Linked DNA regions of Homo sapiens. The protein of the gene in region 4 interacts with the protein of the main gene of each other region in a biochemical or structural test. Each region holds a gene or a part of one and is shown on either strand. Other genes may lie near its edges.

The links.
Region 1: the proteins of SENP1 (region 4) and ZNF420 form a complex in vitro, tested with the Homo sapiens proteins (one study listed by BioGRID).
Region 2: of the proteins of SENP1 (region 4) and USP25, one has a biochemical effect on the other in vitro, tested with the Homo sapiens proteins (one study listed by BioGRID).
Region 3: of the proteins of SENP1 (region 4) and HIPK1, one has a biochemical effect on the other in vitro, tested with the Homo sapiens proteins (one study listed by BioGRID).
Region 5: the proteins of SENP1 (region 4) and GCM1 form a complex in vitro, tested with the Homo sapiens proteins (one study listed by BioGRID).
Region 6: of the proteins of SENP1 (region 4) and HIPK2, one has a biochemical effect on the other in vitro, tested with the Homo sapiens proteins (one study listed by BioGRID).
Region 7: of the proteins of SENP1 (region 4) and CAV3, one has a biochemical effect on the other in vitro, tested with the Homo sapiens proteins (one study listed by BioGRID).

What each region holds. Positions count from the first base shown.
Region 1 is NC_000019.10:37,123,433-37,126,932, forward strand, and holds part of ZNF420 (zinc finger protein 420), read left to right. Parts: intron 1-3,500. UniProt on the Homo sapiens protein: May be involved in transcriptional regulation.
Region 2 is NC_000021.9:15,872,982-15,876,481, forward strand, and holds part of USP25 (ubiquitin carboxyl-terminal hydrolase 25), read left to right. Parts: intron 1-1,421; coding exon 1,422-1,545; intron 1,546-3,500. UniProt on the Homo sapiens protein: Deubiquitinating enzyme that hydrolyzes ubiquitin moieties conjugated to substrates and thus, functions in various biological processes including inflammation and immune response.
Region 3 is NC_000001.11:113,970,824-113,974,323, reverse strand, and holds part of HIPK1 (homeodomain-interacting protein kinase 1), read right to left. Parts: intron 2,501-3,500; coding exon 2,370-2,500; coding exon of another isoform or gene 2,286-2,369; exon of another isoform or gene 2,266-2,285; intron 1,301-2,265; coding exon 812-1,300; 3' UTR 1-811.
Region 4 is NC_000012.12:48,099,580-48,103,079, forward strand, and holds part of SENP1 (sentrin-specific protease 1), read right to left. Parts: intron 1,938-3,500; coding exon of another isoform or gene 1,894-1,937; coding exon 1,890-1,893; intron 1-1,889. UniProt on the Homo sapiens protein: Protease that catalyzes two essential functions in the SUMO pathway.
Region 5 is NC_000006.12:53,126,461-53,129,151, reverse strand, and holds the end of GCM1 (chorion-specific transcription factor GCMa), read left to right. Parts: intron 1-205; coding exon 206-946; 3' UTR 947-2,191; downstream 2,192-2,691. UniProt on the Homo sapiens protein: Transcription factor involved in the control of expression of placental growth factor (PGF) and other placenta-specific genes. Binds to the trophoblast-specific element 2 (TSE2) of the aromatase gene enhancer. Binds to the SYDE1 promoter.
Region 6 is NC_000007.14:139,575,499-139,578,998, forward strand, and holds part of HIPK2 (homeodomain-interacting protein kinase 2), read right to left. Parts: intron 1-3,500.
Region 7 is NC_000003.12:8,743,802-8,747,258, reverse strand, and holds the end of CAV3 (caveolin-3), read right to left. Parts: intron 1,734-3,457; coding exon 1,392-1,733; 3' UTR 501-1,391; downstream 1-500. UniProt on the Homo sapiens protein: May act as a scaffolding protein within caveolar membranes. Interacts directly with G-protein alpha subunits and can functionally regulate their activity. May also regulate voltage-gated potassium channels.

The DNA.
Region 1 (3,500 bases), on a different chromosome or scaffold from region 4:
GCCTTGTCTCTTGAATTTTTTCAGAACACTAAGATACAACCTTAGGCTATTGAAGCCAGCAAATGTCCCAAGGGTAGCTCTAACTTCAGAGCATGTTCACCTCTCCAGTTTCTGGCTCTCAGCTCTCACTTCATTGCTTGACTTCTTTATTTTCTTTTACTCTTGTCTTTTTTTTTTTTTTTTTTTTTTTGAGCGGAGTCTCGCTCTGTCACCCAGGCTGGAGTGCAGTGGTGCAATCTTGGCTCACTGCAACCTCCACCTCCTGGTTCAAGTGATTCTCCTGCCTCAGCCTCCCGAGTAGCTGGGACTACAGGCGTGTGCCACCATGCCCAGCTAATTTGTGTGTGTGTATTTTTAGTAGAGAGGGGGTTTCACGAGTGTTAGCCAAGATGGTCTCAATCTCCTGACCTCGTAATCCGCCCGCCTCAGCCTCCCAAAGTGCTGGTATTACAGGCATGAGCCACTGCGCCCAGCCTTAATCTTGTCTATATTTTTAAAAGGATGTTTGTCATATTTTACCCACCATTTATTGGTGTTTGTTAAGAAATCTGATATACCATTCAGATACCAACTGTATCCACCTACTGTCACAGTCATAATATACAACAGTTCTATTAACCATCCCTAAATTCCCTCATGCTTTCTTCTTTCATTGTCAACCTCTCCCCTTTAACCATTCCCAGCCTATGAAAAACTACTCACCAAATTCCATCCATATAGTTTTGCTTTGTCAAGAATGTCATATAAATAGAATCAAAATATGGCTTTTCTCACTTAGCAAAATATATTTAAGATTTATCCATATTGTTGCATGGATCAATTTGTTTCTGTTATTGTTGAGTAATGTTGCATGAATCAATACTTTGTTTCTGTTATTGCTGAGTAATGTTCCAGTACCTGGAATGGCCAAAGTTTGCTGATTCATTCGCCTTTTGAGGGACATCTGGTAGTTCCAGTTTGGAGCACTTCTGAATAAAGCTGTTATAATCTTTGACATATAGATGTTTGTGTGAGCATAAGTGTAAATACTAATGTGACTGCTGTATCATATGCTAAATGTATGTTTAACATTATAAGAAACTACCACACTCTTTTTTACCATAGTTACAGTGTTTTGCACTCTCAGCAACAGTATTTGAGAATTTTTGTGTTCTGTTTCTTGATCTGTATTTCTAACTGAAATATTCTTTATCACTATAGACTCCTTCCCTTATATTGGATAATTGTTTTTTTTTTCTTTTTCTTTTTTTATGAGCCAGAGTCTCGCTCTGTTGCCCAGGCTGGCTTGCTAGTGGTGAGATCTTGGCTCACTGTAACCTCTGCCTCCCTGGTTCAAGTGATTCTCCTGCCTCAGCCTCCCAAGTAATTGGGATTACAGGCACCTGCCACCACACCCAGCTGATTTTGTATTTTGTTTTTTTTGAGATGAAGTCTTGCACTGTCACCCAGGCTGGTGTGCAGTGGCATGATCTCGGCTCACTGCAACCTCCGCCTCCCAGGTTCAAGCGATTCTCCTGCCTTAGCCTCCCGAGTAGCTGGGATTACAGGCACCCGCCACCATGCCTGGCTAATTTTTTGTATTTTTAGTAGAGACGGGTTTTCACCATGTTGGCCAGGTTGGTCTCGAACTCCTGACCTCAAATGATCCACCTGCCTTGGCCTCCCAAAGTGCTGGGATTACAGGCATGAGCCACTGCGCCTGGCATGAATAATTGCCTTTTTTCTCTCCAACATTCCATGAGATTATAGAACCCTTTCATTACGTTATAGACCTGTAGTAGTGCCTGGGAACTCTAGGATGTGTTCTTCCCAGAACACACAGAATTGTCCTTGAATAGACAAGTAAATAAGAGAAGACATGAGGCAAGGCATGAAGAAACAAAGGAAACTGTGAAGTAAGGATAAGTAAAAGCAACTTAGTATCCTATTTGAAAGGGATAGAGAGAGCTAAAGAGCAATTGGAGAGGCATATAGGATCATAGATTTAGTATGGAGGTGCTTTTGTTTCTATGTGTAAGGAAGTTATAGGGAAACCACAGATCACTGGTTTCTAGGCATGTACCACTAGGGTGGTATGAAGGGTTGATTACAGAGAAACAGGACAAGGGTATTTAGGAGTGACAGAAGTATGACGGTGGGTGGATACATGATTTGTGTCCTTATAAGTCAAAGTTTCTTTTGTTTTTTCTCCTGTTTTTCATTCACCTGGTTTTTATTGAGTGCTTTCATTACCTAGTTTTTATTGAGTGCTAGACATCACAAAGAAAAGTTATAAGGTTTCAGTCCTTGGATAACATTATACAAAATCCAATAAAGATTTAAGTTTGCTATGGCAAGCAGTCTTGAATCACCATAATCCAAATTTTTGAAATTTGAGCTGATTCAAAGATGATTCAGACTTCAGACTCTGTCCAGATTGGTCTACTGTTTCTCCTTTATTCCTCAGTATAGCTCTCAGGGTTCCCAACCCAAAGTATAAAGAATTCATGGCAGGCCCTATCCTCCAGTTATTGTTGCCCAGCCCTGTGACACAGTCCAAAACACTGTTTAGTTTCTCCCCCTCTTAGCTTTTTCTAGAATCATAAGACTTCTCTAAGTGGAAATGTGGACCCAGATGTTGGGCTTATCTCTTTGATTTTCATATTTTTCAATTTTTAGCCACCCACTCTTTATTATGTAAACGCTCCAGTGGCTTCACTCAGGTGCCTTTTATAATTTGCTTAATTTGTATAATTGCTATCATCTAGAAGGTTGGTCTAAATTACCTAAATTACCAGAAATTAATGTTTAAGATTTAGGGGCTGATAATTAAATTAAGACCTGAAGAATGAGGAAGAGTGTTTGTATAGTCTCATCCAGAGCAGTCCAAAGAAATGGAATAGGCTCTGGCTAGCTTTTAATTGAAAAAGGTCTGTGACTTTTTCAGAGTTGAAAGGAAGCTAGTTTTTCTGGCAAATAAGGAGCGAAGCTGAGAAGGCTCAACAGATACATAAGCAAGGAGAAGACCATGGAAGGGGAAATAAGTCAAAGTCATTGAAGAGTTTGGATTTTATATTAATATGGAAGCTACTAAAAAGTATTAAGCAGATAAAGAAAATCATTATCTGAATCTGAATCAGTTGATAGGAAGGATTAAAATTACAGATCTCCAGGATCTTTTTCTGATTCACTAGCAGTTAGTCTGGTGTAATGTTGGACAGCTATAATTTTAACATGCTCCCCAGGTGATTTTGATCCCCACCAAGGCTTGAGAACTACTCACTTTAAAATTGTTCTTAATCTCTTCCCTTATCTTCTCAAGTGAGTTTTCATTATTCTCTAATCTCTCAGATGCCCCTTTCATATATTAATATATGAGATCCTTCTTAGCTAATTTTTTTTAAAATTCTAGATAGGAACATTACTGTACCATGAAATCAGTGTAGTGGGGTTTGTCTGCATGTGTATGAGACAGAGAAATTGAAAAAAGTAGAAATATTGCAGAATAGAATAGAAAGCAG
Region 2 (3,500 bases), on a different chromosome or scaffold from region 4:
TTTAAAATAATATTTTTTATTTCAGTTATACAAATACTTGGCTAGATATAGTTTTTATTTTGACATGTTAGAAGGATAGTTTTGAGGTAAAAGTAATTCTTTATTAAATATTTTTTTCTTCCATTTTTGTTTTGTTTTGTATTTTTGAGTTGGGGTCTTGCTCTGTTGCGCAGGCTGGAATGCAGTGGTATGATCATGGCTCACTACAACCTCTTACCTTCTCAGCTCAAGAAGTCCTTCCTCCTCAGCCTCCTGAGTAGCTGGTACTACAGGCATGTACCACGATGCCCAGCTAATTTTTTTTTTTTTAATGTTTTTGTAGAGATGGGGGTGTCAACTATGTTGGCCAGGCAGGTCTTGAACTTCTGGCCTCAGCTGATCCTGTCACCACCACCTCCCAAAGTATTGGGATTACAGGCATGAGCGACTGTGCCTGGCCCCTTTTCTTCCCTTTTTAAAACCTAATTTGAATTTCATAATATCTAGACTTACATTAATATAACACATATGCCTAATTCTATCACTTCTTTTTTTTTTGAGACGGAGTTTTGCTCTTGTTGCCCAGGCTGGAGTGCAGTGGCGTGATCTCAGCTCACCTCACCCTCCACCTCCCGGGATTCTGCTACCTCAGCCTGCCGAGTAGCTGGGACTACAGGCATGTGTCACCATGCCCGGCTAATCTTGTATTTTTAGTAGAGGCGGGGTTTCTCCATGTTGGTCAGGCTGGTCTCGAACTCCCTACGTCAGGTGGTCCGTCTGCCTCAGCCTCCCAAAGTGCTGGGATTACAGGTGTGAGCCGCCGCACCCGGCCTCTATCAGCTTTTTTATGTTTGCAGGCTTTTTGTTTTTGCTTTATTCCACTAGGTTTCCCAGATTTAGAAGAAATCTTTCATTGTCCACTTCCTCTATTTCCTTTAGATATTCTTATTTCTATTTTTTTTTTACATTTTTCTCAGTAACTAAAACTGTCTGCACATAGAAAAGAACCTGTCTAAGTTGTCATTGAACAAACCAAATGATGTTTGTGATCATTTACTTCATATAAATGTGACATTGCGTTAAACAATTAGATTGTTGGCTTTCACATTAGCTCCAATTTTGAGTTTAAATGGAAGACATCAGGAAAATAAATACCAAGGAAAACAGAACTATCTGACTTTATCAGTTATTGCCTCTTTTCCCAGATTTTTTCTTAATTTATAGCTCTTCTTTTTTTACTTTTAAGATAACTATCTCTGGGTTTCAGATGTTGCTGTTGCTAAAAAGGCGCTCTCAAGCATACACTGCGTCAGATGATATTTTTTATTATAATGTAGATTATCAAAACTTAAGCATATACTTAAAATGTTTCATAATTATAGCTGACTTTGTTTCTACAAAGGTGAAATACTAATGTTATATGTTTCTTTTTAATTTTCAAGTTATATAGATTCCTTGCTGTTCCTCATCTGTGCTTATCAGAATAACAAAGAACTCTTGTCTAAAGGCTTATACAGAGGACATGATGAAGAATTGATATCACATTATAGAAGAGAATGTTTGCTAGTAAGTTGAATGCATATAGTATGATCTTATCATTTTGTCTGACATTGGGCAAGTTTTCCAGACTCATATATAAGTGATTGACTCCATAAACTCTGAGGGGATAAGAACATGATGATGTCTATAAACTGGTTCTAGTCCCTTCAGATGGAAAAGTACACTCAGTACTTTATTCTTTTCTCTTTATGAATCCCAAGTACTATAGGTGATAAATGAGAAATGTTCTTAAAATAGCATCAGTTTGTTTACATTTCTGTATTTAGATTTCGTCATCACACTACCACTCCTTTTTTTGGTGGGAGAGGAAGGGATGCATAGATAAGCCTTAAAAAATGTTTTATGTAAGTCTATAAGAATATGCAGGCTGGCGCAGCAGCTCATGCCTGTAATCCTAGCACTTTGGAAGGCTGAGGCTGGTGGATCACAAAGTCAGGAGATCGAGACCATCCTGGCCAACGTGGTGAAACCCCATCTCGACTAAAATACACAAACACAAAAATTAGCTGGATATGGTGGTGTGCGCCTGTAGTCTCAACTACTCAGGAGGCTGAGGCAGGGGAATCGCATGAACCTGGGAAGTGGAGGTTGCCTTGAGCCAAGATCGCGCCACTGCATTCCATCCTGGCAACCAGGTGACAGAGCAAGACTCTGTCTCAAAAAAACAAGAATATACATAGAATGTATTAGAGTAATTTGTTTAACTTAAAAAATTGAATTTTCAGGTACAAGAATAGTATAGCTGACTTTAAACATACATAGAACCAAAACCTGATGGTTCCTCTGAAACCTTCAAAAAATGGTATAATGTTTCTCATCATTTTTTGTAGTAACCCAGCCACATTTGGTTATTTGTTTTACATAGGAATTGAAATGAAACCTCGTCAAGATTACTTTAGTGTTCCTTTCAGATTTTTTCACGTTGTATATTTACAAAGTGTCAGGTTCTGAGGGATACAAACATGAGTAAGATGTACTTCCTGTCCTCAGAAAACTCAGTCTGGTAGGAGACATAATTGTTTGTTCTGGAATAAGTGCCATTATGAGAAATATGCACAATGATATGCCTGAAATATTTGGGAAGAACCTTAAGAGACAAGGTAAACCTCGTCTGGATCTTGATGGATAAATAGAAGTTTTATTCATGATAGAGAAGGGAGAATATTCCAGTACACAACAGAAAATCAAGATAAATTCACTGTGGCTATCCAGGTTATGAGGAAGTGGGGTAAGGTGGAAGTGATGAAGCTGACAATACTTGTCGATGTCAGATGATGAAGAAACTTAGATGACATTCAAATGAGTTTGCACCAGTGTAAGTTTGATTAGGTTTGGCATAATGAGGTTTGTTTTCAGAAAATAATTCTGGTAATAATAATAGCATTCTAGAGGATGAACAGGAAAGAAGTAGATTGAAGTCAAGAACCTTAGAGGGGAAAGTCAAGGGACGGAGAGTGAGGACCTCAACTCATGTAGTACGGTAGGTATGATGGTGAAGGAAATGAAATCGGCATGTCATAGCTGTTGGGTGAGTGGGAAGAAGGAAATGGAAGAGTCAAAGCTGCCAAACTTACTAGTTTTTCGTTTAATATTAGGGAGTCTAATAGGAGGAACAAGGTTGGCTTTGAACATGTTTTATTTAAGAGATTTCCAGGACATTCTTTGATTCAGTGAACTTAACATTAAACTTGTCATTAAATTTTATATATCATTTAATGCATACTTCCAAAAATTGTAGTAAATACTTGAAGATTTATCTCATTTTATTCTCTTAACCCCTATGGTTGGAAGATAAAATACCCTATTATTAATATAAAGAAAGTGAAGCTAACAGATTTAGCTAATCTGTTCACGATTGGTGTATTAGTCCGTTCTCACACTGCTATAAAGATACTACACAAGACTGGGTAATTTATAAAGGAAAGAGGTTTAACTGACTCACAGTTCCACATGGTTGGGGA
Region 3 (3,500 bases), on a different chromosome or scaffold from region 4:
AAAAAATAATTTAAAAAAGAATTCATGGTGCTTCATTTAAAAAGAATACTTGGTGTTTTCACGCAGATATGGATTCTCTCACATTAAGTTACCAGCAAATGGTGAGCTGCCTTTTAAACACTACTTTATAACAAACACAGGAGCAATTGAGAGAATCTCAATAGTAACACAGAGTAATACGTAACCAGTTTTGCAAAAATAACAATTGCCCATTAAGTATAATATGACATTAAAACAAAACTGAAACTCTGTAAGTTTAAATGTCCAATAAACAAAAGGGAGATTGTGTAAGCCGCTTTTAAAATAAAATAGGCAAGTCTGAGTTTATAAACAAACAAAAAGTAATTTTTCTTTTTTTGTCATCAGATTTCAACTCCTTCTATCAGCATTTTTCCTGACCAGCAATCACAATAACACAAAATGAAATAAAGAGGGGCTTCACTTGTTTTTAAAAGCATTTATAGAAATCAAGTCAGAGAGACAAAATATTTTTCAGAGGGTAACTTCAGAACAATCTCTCTTCCTTGGTAACTGCAGAAGATGGGCATCTGAACTCTTCCAAGTACCAAAATTACTGTCACAAAAATAATGAATTTAAAAATAGGGCAAACTTTGGGAAGACTACAACAATGCAGTCAACACTGAGACAGGTTCCCCCAGAGAAAAACCTTCTGCTTCAGTGGGCCCCTGCAGAACAAGTTGCTGGCTAAGAAATTTCAAGAGGGTAAAGGAGGATCTCTCCATAGCCCAATATTAAGAACGCAGGGCCAGGAGAAGGTAGCCATGATTCCTCCTCCCTCATGCTCACCAACTATAAGTAGGAATACTGGCTGATCTTGGTAGGACTCAGCGGGTATCCAGTGTAAATTGTTGAGCCTCGGGAAGACCCAATGTAGGATTGGGTGGCAAACTGGTGTTGGTACTGAGCAGGGGCCACGCTGGCAGAAGTGAGGAGGCTGGGCCCAACACTGACAGGGACCTGGTGCACCAAAGTGCTAGGGTGAGTGGTATAGGCTGCAGCATGCCTTGAGGAACCCTGTGGGGAGAAAAGATGAGCAATGGAGCTGGTTGAGCCCAGTGCAGCAGCAGAAGTCGGGGCAGCATACGTATACAGATGAGCCTGGCTTGGCAGGTGAGCAGGGGCCGGGGCAAGGTGTGGGTGCCCTGTCGAGTGTAGCGGGCTGCCATGCTGGAAGGTGTAGGGGGCTTGGGAGAGAGGGGCCACAAACGCCTGCTGCCTGCGGGGGGCTGGGTTGCTGCTTCTCTCCTGTGAGGTTGGAGCCGCCGATGACTGCTGGTTCTGGAAGAAAGAAGGAAGAAGTGAGGAATCCTGAGGTCACTCCAGCTCAGGGCACCAAAGGCCAAGTTAAGAGCTCAGGTTCTGACTTGTACTGTTTTCGAATGGGTATAGCACATAATCTCCCACACTGGCATTGAATGCTGTCAGAAATCAGCCACCCCTCCTTCTGCCTCTTAGCAAGATAGATCCTAATCTGGCTCAGGTAACAGCATTTTGCTTGTAAGTATGACAGGAAGAGGGAGAATCAAGAGATCATAGGGTTCCCCACTCCTGCAAGTTAATAACTGGTGACTCAACTCACCCTATTCTGGCGTCAGTAAATTTGAATTTTTCCTAGCCTTTATTTCTTACCATTGCTTTCTTTTGTTTTCGTCCTCTAAGTTCTTCATACCCCTCTTGAAATGTGGAAACTAAAATACATGCACTAACTCAAACTTACATTTTCACTTGCATGTGCTCTCTCTCACATACCCTCATACTGACACTTTCTCACTACTGGTGGACATCATACAAGCACTCGAATTTTAGCTTCTAAGAGTGAACACAAATAGAATAAAGTAATGAGAGAAGCAGAAGGGTAGGTTGGGGCTGGGGGTGTTCGGAGAGTGGGGAAGTCCCAAATCGCAGACTCCAGCAACAAGTAGGACCTAGAACCAGTTGAATTTGGTGGCCAATGAGCTTTTCACAATCTCTTGACTCAAGTAAACAATGTAAGGATCAGCTTACTTATGGCCTGGGGGATAAAGAGAATCTGGTCTCAAAGCATATGCCTATCACAGACATGGTTAAAGCACCCCAGGCTCTTTCTAAATCCCAGACGTTTCTCTAACCTTCCAGGGTAGACTTAGGGAGGTCTGATGGAAAACCTAGAATGTACATCCTGAACACACTTACAGAGTGAATGAAGAGACACAGCATATGCGGTACGACGTAAGCCATAGAACACAAAATTGTTTGACACAAAAGGGGCTTCATTTGGCTTTATTCAGCATCCAGCCAGAAGCAGGGTTCTCCAGAAAGTAACAACAGTGCAGGGCCCAAACAGAAGGCAGTAGCCCATAGCACTTACCTGGCTAAGATTGAGTGGTTGTGCTGCACTGGTCCCCCCGCGTTGAGCTCGATACCCTGTGGGGGTGATACAGCATCCAGATGACTGCCCACTCACTGAAGCGACTGGCTTAGTCTTATTGCTCAGGAGACCTAAAAAAGCACCAGGCTTAATAGTTATGAGTAGACATCACTGAGCTAACCTCAGATGGCATCATATTAATTAGTCCACATCTGTATGTAGTTTGCAAGCATTAAGGTCTCAATTCTATTTACATCAGAAGAAAATAACCTGTTATCACCCATTTCTTTTCTGTCTTGGCACAAATCTCCACATAGGATCCTCAAAATGTTCACTTAAATAAATATTATAAATATTTTAACTATAATCTCTTGTTATATACAAGGAACGACTGGAAATACAAATATGCTAAGACACCATCCCTCTCTCCAAGAGTTTATAGTTTTATGTAGGAAGGGATTAAACAAGCACAGAAATGATAATGTGAAGCTGAGAAAGCTATTGGTAATTCTTAGGATATTAAAGTGGCAAGAGGGTTTAAAAGAAGGCAAAATTCTATCTTGTTGGACACTTACTGTCTTCAAATTCTTAGAAATTACAGGACAGCTGAATGTGAAATTTTGCTTGCTTCTGTGTTCCCATTAGGAAAACCAGAGCATTTATTCAGTGTCTCATGTGATAGCCTATATTCTCTGGACCCAAGAGCACACGGAGGTACTAATAATTCTATTCAGTAGCCTGGCATCAGGAAGCTCTCTCTCTTGTCTGCAATGGGACAACTGTCTACTTCTGAAAAGAATCACACAGAGGCATAACACAATACCCTCAAATTACAACCCTGTTTATGTCTATGGCAGTAAGATAATACATAATAAAACATAATTTATACAAGTATGGCCCAGGTTTATGTTGACACCTAAACTTCACCAACCCCTTCCTTGGTATGAAGTTGTCACTGAAAAGCAGCTGCCTTAACAAGACTACATTGCCTGGGCTCACTTGCATCTAGGTGGGGCCATGTGAGAAGCATTCACTATTTCCACTTATTTCCAGCCTAAAGAGGTTAAGACATGTGTGTGCCTCCTTCACACTTTCTTTCTCCTTCTGACTGGATGCTCAGGAATCAAACAC
Region 4 (3,500 bases):
CTGAGGTGGGCGGATCACTTACTTGAGGCCAGGAGTTTGAGACCAGCCTGGCTAACATGGCAAAACCCCATCTCTACTAAAAATACACCAGGCATAGTGGCACATGCCTGTAATCCTAGCTACTTGGAGGCTGAAGCATGAGAATCGCTTGAACCCAAGGCAGAGGATGGAGTGAGCCAAGATAACACCACTGCACTCCAGCCTAGGCAAGAGAGTGAGACCCTGTCTCTAATAATAATAATAATCTGCCTGAACATTTTTTTAAAAGCATAATTTTATTCATATTGCTCTTAACAGGTATCAGCTCAATAACTATAATATTATGGCAGAATTTTACTTCAGAACCATTTTTGATACCTTTGTTACTATAGAAGAGCTAGAATAGAAGCAATAAACGTAACAGAATTCAACGACTTACACTGCTATCAGCAATGAGAGAAAATGGAAACAAATGAACAGGGAAGGAGAAGGCAGACTAAGGAAAAGGAAAACACAGAATAGAGAGAAAGCTAATGTGAATGTAAAAGGAACATATGGGATGTTATAAGACCTAAGTGTATAGATTTTTCAACTTATTCCTAAATTAGCTACTAGTCCTGACCTTATATTGATCCCCTTAACAGACATAAAGTACTACAAATGAAATAGTGAAAAATGTCCTAACCACAATTCTCAGTAACACTAGCTAAATGAAATAGAATATTTACATTAATCAAATTATTTATCATTTAGAAGTAGTATAACATAGTACTAAGGAACAAGAACTCTTGGCTGGGCGCAGTGGCTCACCCCTGTAATCTCAGCACTGTGGGAGGCCAAGGCAGGCGGATCACGTGAGGTCAGGAGTTCAAGACCAGCCTGGCCAACATGGCGAAACCCCATCTCTACCGAAAATACAAAAATTAGCCGGACTTGGCGGCGCACGCATGTTTGTAATCCCAGCTACCTGGGAGGCTGAGACAGGGGGATTGCTTGAACCCAGGAGGCAGAGGTTGCAGTGAGCTGAGATCATACCACTACACTCCAGCCTGGGTGACAGAGCGAGACTCCGTCTCAAAAGAAAAAAGAGAAAAAAAAAAAAAGAACGAGAACTCTAGAAAACTCTAGAACCAGAGTGCCTAGGTTTAAATCCTGGCTCAGCCAGTTATAGTACATGACTCTAGGCGAGCTTCTTAACTTCTGTGTCTCAGTTTCCTTGTGATATAATAGGGATAACAACAGTAACCTACTTGGTAGGTACTATTAGGTACCCTTGTAAGATGGTTATAAGGATTAAATGAACCAATATATTTTAAATACTTAGAACAGGGTCTAGTACACAGTAAATGTTTGCTAGGGTATACTTAACTTTTTCAATACAATCAATGAGATAATACTCCTAAATGAGCATATAAACAATGTTCTAACCAAAAGATAATTATGTGGGCTGGGTGCGGTGGCTCATGCCTGTAATCCCAGCACTTTGAGAGGCTGAGGTGGGCCGATCACCTGAGGTCAGGGGTTTGAGACCAGCCTGGCCAACATGGCGAAACCCCGTCTCTACTAAAAATACGAAAATCAGCCGGACGTGGTGGCACATGCCTGTAATCCCAGCTACTTGGGAGGCTGAGGCAGGAGAATTGCTTGAACCCAGGAGACAGAGGTTGCAGTGAGCTGAGATTGTGCTACTGCACTCCAGCCTGGGTGACAGAGCAAGACTACGTTTCAAAAATAGCAATAATAATAATTTTGTTTGGTATATAGTATTACATAATTAGGATTAAAATTTCTCTTAAAATTATTATTAAGCACAAAGATACAAATACTGAAAATGTTAGGAAAACCCATTCTTTCACTACAGCTTAACCAATGAAAGTAGCTAAAAGGATTCAACAGCTAGTTAGTCTTACCCATTTCAAGTCTTTTCACATCACTGACTTTAGCAAAGATACAAAGTCCTATAAAAGAAGACACAAAACAGAAAAATTACATACTGAAACACCTACTTCACTTAATTTTAGAAGGTGCAGCCACTAGAAGTGACATTTGTTTGTGTTCTTAGTGGAGAAAAATCTAAGGTGGTAAAGAGTTGACTTGATGGGAAAAGAGTAAAAACTAAAACTAGCTTGAGGTACTTCCAAACATTTCTGCAACCTGTACTACATTAAACAGCAATTACAGACTACGCACAGAATCACAGAATATTAAAGCAAGAAGCAAATTGGGAGCGCCAACCCTTAAGAGACTGAGTGGTTTGCATAAAGTCATAATGTTAGCAACTACACCGAAATTATAACCTAGAAATTCTTCCCAATCCATTGTTCTATTACCTCATGCTAAATCACTTCATAAACAAGTGACAGACTTTGTGATGGTCCTATTAAGACTTTTCTTCCATGTCTTACTCAGTAGCCTGATACTCTAATGACAATCAAGAACTACTCTGGAGTAATACAAAGTACTTCCCCCAACATCATCAATCAAACTGCTACAAACCAAAGCCCCTTTGCCTATATAAAAATTACTGTCTCCTCTGATGTATCCACTTTTTCCACAAAATAAAGATGTTAAAAACCAAACTGCTGGCCGGGTGCAGTGGCTCACGCCTGTAATCCCAACACTTTGGGAGGCCGAGGAGGGCAGATCACTTGGCCAAGGAGGTCAAGACTTGGAGGCCAGCCTGGCCAACATGGTGAAAACCCATCTCTACTAAAAATACAACAATTAGCCAGGTGTGGTGATACGTGCCTGTAATCCCAGCTATTCAGGAGGCTGAGACAGAAGAATTGCTTGAACCCAGGAAGCAGAGGTTGCAGTAAGCCGAGATCATGCCACTGCACTCCAGCCTGGGCGACAGAGCAAGACTCTGTCTCAAAAAAAAAAAAAAAAAAAAAAACCAAACACAAAAACACAACCAAACTGCTTGGAACTAGGTTAATAAACATATCCTCGGCACATATGGTCTTGGTAGATTTCCAAGAGGAGGAGGCTACTAGGGATGGTAATAGTCACACCTATATATATTTATAATCTTATAACCATATTTTTAAAAAATATTAAGCACTTCATCAACCACATAGCAATACTAGGGCTTCAATGTATTCATGAGGCTGGATGATGATAATAGGCATTCTTTGTGGTCACAATAATGAAAGTCACACAAAGGAAGGCAGCTTAAAGTTTTCTTGGCGTACGAGACCACGCCACTGGCCACTGCACTCCAGCCTGGGCGACAGGGCGAGACTCCGTCTCAAAAAAAAAAAAAAAAAAAAGTTTTCTTGGCATAGCTATAGACTAAGCAGAGTAATTATCTGATTACCTAGTCTTGCCAGGAAGGATCCCTAAAGAATTTAAGCCTTAGATTTATGCTTCAAATATATTTCCAAATGCTCAACTTAAAAGGCTTCTTTACTAAAAATTCTTCAGGTTATTCTTTCCCCTTCTTTCTTCTTTAATAGAGTAGACTCCCTTGGGTTCCAGATTAAGGGGGAAAAAATCTTATCAACTAATATATTAGCAAC
Region 5 (2,691 bases), on a different chromosome or scaffold from region 4:
GGAAACAGAGGCAGCCTTTGCTTTTTTCAAGTGTTTCGTGGTTGTGGTCAAGCCGCTGCATGTGTTTGTGCGTCAAGTATTAATGTGTAAGGAATGAGGAAAATCTGATGGAGCTCTTATTTGTACAGAGTAACTCATGGGTGCCTATGGCAGTGGTTTTGATTTGCTTAACTTATTAACACGAGCATTTCACTTTCCTTTCCAGTCTCTTCCAGGTGAAACACAAAGTCAGGGGAGTTTACCTTTAACTTGGTCTTTCCAGGAAGGCGTCCAATTGCCTGGTAGTTACAGTGGACATTTAATAGCTAACACTCCTCAGCAGAACTCACTAAATGATTGCTTTTCCTTCTCCAAGAGTTATGGTCTGGGAGGAATCACAGATCTGACTGACCAGACTTCCACTGTGGACCCCATGAAGCTCTATGAAAAGCGCAAATTGTCCAGTAGCAGAACCTACAGTAGTGGAGACCTGCTTCCTCCTTCTGCCTCCGGAGTCTACTCTGATCATGGCGATCTACAAGCGTGGAGTAAAAATGCTGCTTTGGGGAGAAATCATCTTGCTGACAACTGTTATTCCAATTATCCTTTTCCTCTGACCAGCTGGCCTTGCAGCTTCTCTCCTTCCCAAAACTCTTCAGAACCCTTTTACCAGCAGCTTCCATTGGAGCCACCTGCAGCCAAAACTGGCTGTCCCCCATTATGGCCAAATCCAGCGGGTAATCTTTATGAAGAGAAAGTACATGTGGATTTTAACAGCTACGTCCAGTCTCCTGCATACCATTCACCTCAAGAAGACCCCTTTCTCTTCACCTACGCCTCTCATCCTCATCAGCAATATTCACTGCCAAGCAAGAGCAGCAAATGGGATTTTGAGGAAGAAATGACATACTTGGGTTTGGATCACTGCAACAATGATATGCTTCTGAACCTGTGTCCTTTGAGATGACCCAAATCTTTCACTATGTGCACCCCAGCCCCTCAAAAATGGGGAAGGGCTGAAAGAATTTCCTTAGGAAATAATTTTTAAAACATAACCACAGATAAATGAGAATCATGATAAGCAGTAGACAAGGCTTTTTTCTTTTTCTTTTTTCCTTCTTTTTTTTTTTTTTTTTTTTTTTTTGAGACAGAGTCTTGCTCTTTTGCCCAGGCAGGAATGCAGTGGCGCCATCTCGGCTCACTGCAACCTCTGCCTCCCGGGTTTGAGTGATTCTCCTGCGTCAGCCTCCCGAGTAGCTGGGATTACAGGCACCTGCCACTGCGCCTGGCTAATTTTTCTATTTTTAGTAGAGACAGGGTTTTGCCATGTTGGTCAGGCTGCTCTCAAACTCCTGATCTCAAGTGATCTGCCCACCTCACCATCCCAAAGTGCTGGGATTACAGGCGTGAGCCATTGTGCCCGGCTGACAAGGCTTTTTTCTTCACATGAGTAATTTTTTTGGCTTCTTCTCCTCCACTCTAGTATTTCCACCCTCAGTAAGGAATGGAAACCTGTCCCGTCTGGGGTGTGAAGTGCCCTCTGCTTTTTCCCCCACATTGTTTGGGGTTCCCAGCACCTCAGCCACATTGCATGCTGGGTTTTCATTGTCATTGTTGCAAATGAAATGGAGTAGACATGTGAAATGCTAACCTATCTAGGACCTGATCTATGCCTTCTTGGGAACTGAGAATGAAGAAACAGAAATAGATGGTGGAAGAACTGCCTAAGGTGTGAAAAGCTGAAGATTCTACCACTGAAGTACTGAATATGTTGTCTAGTTGTGAGACTAGTGTGTAAAATATATGTTTTCTAGATGATTTCTGAGACTTGTGATGACAAGGAACCTGACCTAACCCCATTTTTCATAAAGACAAAGAACAGCAATGTTAAATTGCCATATGAAGAGAAACACTAGTGATGTGCGTGGTCTCCTTGCCTCTTGTTTCCTTCCCTCTTCCTCACTGACTTCCCCTTGCACAGGGGCTTCTGTTTTATCCCATTTATTATTTGTGGCACCTATATCAATGTGGGGTTTGTAATAGGTGAGAAATATTTGCTTGGAGAAGCTCTTGTGCAATTAGCCTGGCAATGATTGGCCGGCCATGTTTGAATGCCAGTTTCTCTTCTTTGCTGAAGTACTTTATGATAAAAGTAAGCCTAGACATAAAATCTGGAGAGAACCATGCAATAAACAAGTATTTTTGAAATAAATTATTCCTTCTCCTTTATTAGAATAGTAACAGATGCACATGATACAAAATTCAAAAGTGAAAAAAAAGAAGTCTCCTAGTTCTAGTCTCCCCTCTGCAACACTGACTAGTTTCTTGTCTATTATTCCAGATATTAGAAATGTTCTCTGCATATATATAATTATATGTAATGTGTATGAAATACATTACATAAAATACACACATATCTTTTATATATAAAATATATTTATATATATATATAAGAGAGAGATGACATAAGTGGTATCATATCAGATTCATTTCTAACATAGTTTTTGTCGTTTTAGGAGCCAATTTGAGCATTAAGTTCTTATAAGCATATAGGATCACAGCTGCTTCATTTTTAATGATGCATTATGCATTACATGACTATTATAATTAAATAGTCCCTATTGATAAACATTTAGATTTGTTCAAATCTTCTAAATTCATTTGTCTAAGTGACAAGACTATATATAAAACTTATATATTGGCCAGGCATGG
Region 6 (3,500 bases), on a different chromosome or scaffold from region 4:
TGGTCGGGGCTGCATGAGGGAATGAAGCAAGGGAAAGCGGAAAAGAATCAGGAGAGGCAAGGTGGGCTGGTGGCCTAAGGCCAGGCCCAGTGCCGTTCCTCTGGGAGGTGTTACTTTCAGCATCTGGAAAATGGGTAGGAGAGATCTGCTATAATTTGAATGTGTTCCCCAAAGTTCTTGTGTTAGAAACTTAGTCCCCAGTGCAAGTGTTTAGGGTGGGGCCAGTAAGGGATGTTAGGTCCTGAGGGCAGAGCCCTCATGAGTGTATGAGTTCATCAGTGCATTAATATTATCTCGGGAGTGGGTTAGCTATTGAGAGATTGGCTTTTTTGATGAAAACAAGTCTGGCCCCCTCACCCTCATGCTCTTTTGTCCTTCTGCCTCCTGTGCTAGGAAGATGCAGCACAAAGGTCCTTGCCAGATGCTGGCATCCTGTTCTTGGACTTCCAGTCTTCAGAATCGTGAGCCAAATAAACTTCTATTGATTATAAATTACCCAGTCTCAGGTACTCTGTTACAGCAACACAAAATAGACTAAGACAGGATCCCTGCTTGGTCCCCACCATGGGTGACTATGAGTATCAGAGGAGACAGTGTCTGTGGTGGGACCTAATAAACTACTAGAAGCTAAAATAACCCTCAGAGTCACCTGGTCCAGTTACCTGCCTCTAGGCAGGATGAGACTAAATCATCCGGGGAATGGCCCTGTGAGCCAAACATGGCCAAGCACAAAACTGCCTCCATGTTATTGCCAAGGGGGCTGAAGAGTGGAAAAAACACTGCAACCCTCCAGAGGTGACCTCATGGTCAGCAGGTGGCTCCATCAACAGTTCTCAAATGTAATTCCTGCATCTTGTTCAGTGCAGACTCTGGCCAGCAGCTCTGGGGGGCCCGAGCACCTGCATTTCTGACAAGCTCCCAGGGGGTGCCAGTGCTGCTGCTTGGGGGACCACGCTCTGAGTAGCCAGGGGCTCTGAGAGAGGTGGGTTAAACCCTGAGCTGGATGGCTTCCATGTTACCCAGCCAGAGAGCCAGGGGAGCCAGGAGCCTCTTCAGAGCCCAGTGGTTTTAACTCATCCAAGTATTTTCTGAGCTCCTGCCCTGTGCTAAGGACGGTGACTGTGTACCACCAGGGACGGGGGTGGCAGGGAGAAGGCTGAGAGCGTGAATAAGGAGGAGGCATCACAGATCACGCAGATGAGGTGGCGAGGCCAGAGGATAAACCAGATGAAGACGCTGACAGTCAGGGACAGCCCAAGTCCAAGAAGGCTGATGGAACAGGACAGGGCAGGACAGGGCATGAGTGTCCAGCCCAGCAGGGGCAAGAGCCCCAGAGGGCGGGAGCTCTGCTGCCGAGTGGGGGCCATCTCCCCACCCCAGCTTGGGGAGTTCTGCAGACAGGACCATCACCCCTTGATAAAAGCAGAAGAGATGCTTTACTAGCCCCCCATGTCCCTGTGCCTCAGCTCTCCTCCAGGAGAGGGCTGCCTAACACACAGTGCAGTATTAATACACACCTAAATGAAATTTCCAATCAAATGCACCCAGATGCACCAGTCATAGCCATTCATTAAATGCAAGCACTTTTGTAATGGCAAAAGCAACAAACAGACCCAGACTAGTGAGAAGATACTGGGCTTCCTTTTTTTTTTTTTTTTTTTTTTTTTGAGATGGAGTTTCACTCTTGTTGCCCAGGCTGGAGTGCAATGGTGCGATCTCGGCTCACTGCAACCTCTGCCTCTCAGGTTCAAGTGATTCTCCTGCCTCAGCCTCCCAAGTAGCTGGGATTACAGGCACCCGGCACCACGCCTGGCTAACTTTTTTGTATTTTTAGTAGAGACAGGGTTTCACCATGTTGGCCAGGCTGGTCTCAAACTCCTGACCTCAGGTGATCCACCTGCCCTTGGCCTCCCAAAGTGCTGGGATTACAGGCGTGAGCCACCGCGCTGGGCCAACACTGGGCTTCTTTAGGAGCAAACTGCATAATGGCCTAGGAAAGTGTGGGAGGCAGAAAATTCCAGATACCTTTCTCTAACTTCAATGACAACGGAAGCAGAAAAAGAGGGGTTTAGTAAGTGAAGGCTACGACAAAGCAGCCTGAAGACTGTGTGGTTTGTGTTGTATAGTTAGAAACCATAGTTACAACAAGCATTGCTTCTGTTCCTTAAACGCTAAAGAACAGTAGAGTTAATGGAGAAGAAAACATCTTCCAGGTGGAAAGACAGGCAGATGGTCCCCCACCAAGAAGGGCAGGGCAGACCAGGGAATGAACAAGAGCCTGGCGCTGGGGCTGGGGGCTGTCCTGCCTCCTTGGGCAACCAGTCCTGCTGGGGTGAGATGTGCACAGAAACAATACTGATTTTTTTTTTTGAGATGGAGTCTTGCTCTGTCTCCCAGGCTGGAGCGCAGTGGTGTGATCTTGGCTCACTGCAACCTCTGCCTCCCAGGTTTAAGTGATTCTCGTGCCTCAACCTCCCAAGTAGCTGGGATTACAGGCATGCACCACCACGCCCAGCTAATTTTTTTTTTGAGACAGAGTCTCGCTCTGTCGCCCAGGCTGGAGTACGGTGGCGTGATCTCAGCTCACTGCAGCCTCCGCCTCCCGGGTTCAAGTGATTCTCCTGCCTCAGCCTCCCGAGTAGCTGGGACTACAGGCGCCCACTGCCACACCCAGCTAATTTTTGTATTTTTAGTAGAGACGGGGTTTCACCATATTGGCCAGGCTGGTCTCGAATTCCTGACCTTGTGATCCACCTGCCTTGGCCTCCCAAACTGCTGGGATTATAGGCATGAGCCACCGCGCCCAGCTGCTAATTTTTGTATTTTTGGTAGAGACAGAGTTTGACCATGTTAGCCAGGCTGGTCGTGAACTCCTGACCTCAAGTGATTTGCCTGCCTCAGCCTCCCAAAGTGTTGGGATTACAGGCGTGAGCCACTGTGCCCAGCCATGGTACTGATTCTTAGTCTAAGAACCAGACTGAGGAAGACTTTGCCCAGGAAAAAGGGAGCGCATTTTAAGAGAGAAAGGTAATGAGTAACCTCCTTTCCGCCATCCTTTGTTGATTTGAGCACTTCATGTGTTGTATCTTGTACTCAGTTATTTTTCTTCATTAAGTTTCTGGAATGTGCTTGAAATATTTTTATCACCTTGACTTTCTATGGAGGACAGCTAAATTCCTTTTTTTATTTTGAGGTGGAGTCTTGCTCTGTCGCTCAGGTTGGAGTGCAGTGGTGCAATCTCGACTCACTGCAACCTCTGCCTCCCAGGTTCAAGTGATCCTCCAGCCTCAGCCTTCCGAGTAGCTGGGATTACAGGTGTGTGCCACCAAACCTGGCTATTTTTTGTATTTTTTAGTAGAGATGGGGTTTTGCCATGTTGGCCAGGCTGGTCTCGAACTCCTGATCTCAGGTGATCTGCCCCACCCTTGGCCTCCCAAAGTGCTGGGATTATAGGCGTGAGCCACCGTGCCGGACAGCTATATTTCTGTGATTTATATTTT
Region 7 (3,457 bases), on a different chromosome or scaffold from region 4:
GCAACTAGGAGCGGAAGCAGGACTAGAACCAAGGCTGCCTGCGTCCTAGTTCCCAAGCTGTGTGTGGTCCACTTCACCACACTGCCTCCCAAGACCACTGGGCTCGTGGCCAGGCATGAATAATGTCTCCGAAAACCTGACAAGTGCTGTGGAACTTTAATTATATGAGACTTAAATGGGCGTTGCATGAAAAGAAAAAAAGAAAAAAAAAAGGTCAGATAGGATTGGGGGGATACTGGTTTAAACAGGTTTATCTACTGCAGGACATGTCAGAGCCTTTAATGTGCCAAAGTCTATTGAAAATCTCTGAGAGAAATATACAGCATTTCTGAAAGAACCGGACCACAGATGCTAACACCCATCCCCATCCTTTCTTTTTTAATGGCTAAGTTCTGGATAGCACACTCGGAAAAGACAGCCCTAAAGAAGATAAGGGCACTGTGTGTGTGTGTGTGTGTGAGAGAGAGAGAGAGTGTGAGGAGGGAGGAAGTGATACATGCTCTTTCTACTGCATTTTATTTCCATAGTGAGTCCACACACGCACAAATTAGACCTTGTTCCTTCGTCACATCTCCTGAGGGCGAAGGTACCCTCATGTCAAATGGCAGTACTGGGCATTTCAGGGGCTCGGTTAGCCAAAGGGGAGGTTCCGGGAGGCTTGAACCCAGGCCCTTCCCTCAGTGGTACCCTGGAAGGGTCACTGCCCCTGCCAGCCCAAGGGTCATTTTCCTCCATTGGTGCCCATTTTTGTGCTCAGGCAACAGGAGTCACTTAAACATGATCTTCCAAGGAACGTGTACGGTTCCAGCAAACAATAGAATCCGAAGAAGAAAAAGACTCTGTTCTTCACTTACATTTGGCCAAGTGAAGAGACAACCAACTCTCCCTGTGTCTGTTTTTCAGGGCAGTGAAGTATATTTTTGGAGCTGGTCAGGACACAAACCAATCTTACAGGCACGAACAAAATGCAGCATTCCCCAAATGCAGCCAAAACCCTTTACTGGAGCCACCTTCCTAACGCCAGTGGTCACTGGTCACTTTCCTGAGTGCGCGTGGAGAGGTTGGCCCCGGGTGGGAACCGCGTGCTGGTTTATGTTGTTACAGTACAAGTGAACGCAAAGACTTGCAGTAGCTGCCTCTTGGCAAATGATCTTCCCCCACGCCCAGGCATGGGGGCATCATGGTGGGGCTGGGGGAGAGCGAAGGGCCATTGTGCTTCTGTGGCTGGGCCGTCTTTTCTTTCTGGCTTCCCTACACCGTGTGCTCCATCATGGGGTATGGAGCAGTCCCTAAAGAGAAAGAGCTCGCCAGCAGCCCCTGTGAAGAAGTCCCCCGGGGACCAGTCTGGCCCACCACCCCCTGCCCTGCCACCGCTGTTGCCCCACCTGGCTTTAGACCTCCTTCCGCAGCACCACCTTGATGCTGCTGCAGACCTGGCCCAGGGCCGCGAAGAGTGGGTTGCAGAAGGTGCGGATGCAGAGTGAGTAGATGTGGCTGATGCACTGGATCTCGATCAGGTAGCTCTTAATGCATGGCACCACCGCCCAGATGTGGCAGAAGGAGATGCAGGCGAACAGGAAGCCCCAGAGCAGGGCCAGTGGGACGCCCAGCAGCGTGGACAACAGACGGTAGCACCAGTACTTGGAGACAGTGAAGGTGGTGTAGCTCACCTTCCACACGCCGTCAAAGCTGTAGGTGCCCACAGGCTCTGCGATCACGTCTTCAAAATCCACCTGCAGGGGTGGCAAGGGGAAGCCTCAACTCACAGAAGCCACCCGCTTCTCAAGCTTTTGGGTGTGTGCGTGCATGTGTCAGAATCCCCTAGAGGTCAGGTTAACCTTGGTGGCTGGACCCTACCTGTATTAGGCTATTCTTGCATTGCTTTAAAGACATACCTGAGGCTGGGTAATTGATAAAGAAAGGAGGTTTAATTGGCCCATGGGTCTGTGATCTGTGCAGGAATCATGGTGCTGGCATCTGCTTGGCTTCAGGTGAGGCCGCAGGGAGCTTTCAACCATGGCTAGAGAAGGGAGAGCAGGCGTCTCCCCTGGTGAGAGTGGGAGCAAGAGAGAGAGCTGGGCAGGGGGTGGAGTGCCACACTTTACAACAACCAGATCTTATGAGAACTCTCCCACTATTGTGAGGACAGCACTAAGCCACGAGGGATCTGCCTCTGTGATCCGATCACCTCCCACCCGGCCCCACCTCCAATATTGGAGATTATGTTTCACCATGAGGTTTAGAGGGGACACAGATCCAGACCATATCATCGCCCCAGGGATTCCGACTCCCCAAGTCTGGAGTGGGGCCTAAGGCTCTGTATTTCTAACAAGCTCCCTGTTGAGCCCAAGCTGCTGCTGTTCCTAGGCACCGCTGACCAACACAACACGCTCGTTCAACCCCCTCAAGGTGAGCGACTTGCTTAAAGCCAACAGTGACTTAGTGGCAGTGCTATAGTCGCAGCTCTCAAATTCTATTGTTTTATGATCTGAAGGGTGTTGGACGGTCGTATGCATCCTACAGCAATTTACTGAGCACCTGTGGATTGGATGGTGAACAGGCAGAGGTTCCTCACATCGCTTACCTAAGCTCTCTCGAGCCCTGCTATGCATGAAGCACCTTCCTAGCTGCCTACACATGGGTGATGTCACTTAGCATCACTAAGCCTCAGCTGTCTTGTCTGTAAGATGGAGTCAATGAACGTCTTCCAGTGGTATCATGAGGATGAAAGGATGGGAGGCTGTAAAATCCACTGGTCCACAGTGAAACCCTGTCTCTACTAAAAATACAAAAAAAAAAAAAAAAAAAAAAAATTAGCCGGGTATGGCAGCGGGTGTCTGTAGTCCCAGCTACTTGGGAGGCTGAGGAAGGAGAACGGCATAAACCCGGGAGGCGGGGCTTGCAGTGAGCCGAGATTGTGCCACTGCACTCCAGCCTGGGTGACAGAGCGAGACTCCATCTCAAAAAAAAAAAAAAAAAAAAATTCCACTGGTCAATTAAACAGCAGTGAACCAAATTAGCTGCTTCATGACTGGTCTCCCCATGGTTGTTACCAGTACAGCCCGCCAAGTGGGAGGTTGCAGAGCTGTTTGCTAATGCCTGAAACTGTTCTGAGATGTTTTCTTTCTAGCAGTGCTCCTGGGCCATTCAAATTAAAAGGGGGTGGATGCAGGTACAGACTAATCAGATCAACAGGAGGGGCCTGTGTGGTGGCCTGCAGGGCTGAGGCTCCAACTTCAATCTTCCTGGTTAGTTAGTCCCTTTCCCGCCTTGGTTATGGGGAGGGGATCCTCTCCTCTATTGCATCACCAATATTAAAATTACTTTCATTATAAAAAAAATGGCCATATCACAGAGAATTAACAGAATAGAAAAAAGAAAAGAGTCTTGGGTTTGTACTTCTCTATTACTAAAGATATGATTGTTTTGGTGCATTTCTTTCCAGTACAATATTTTC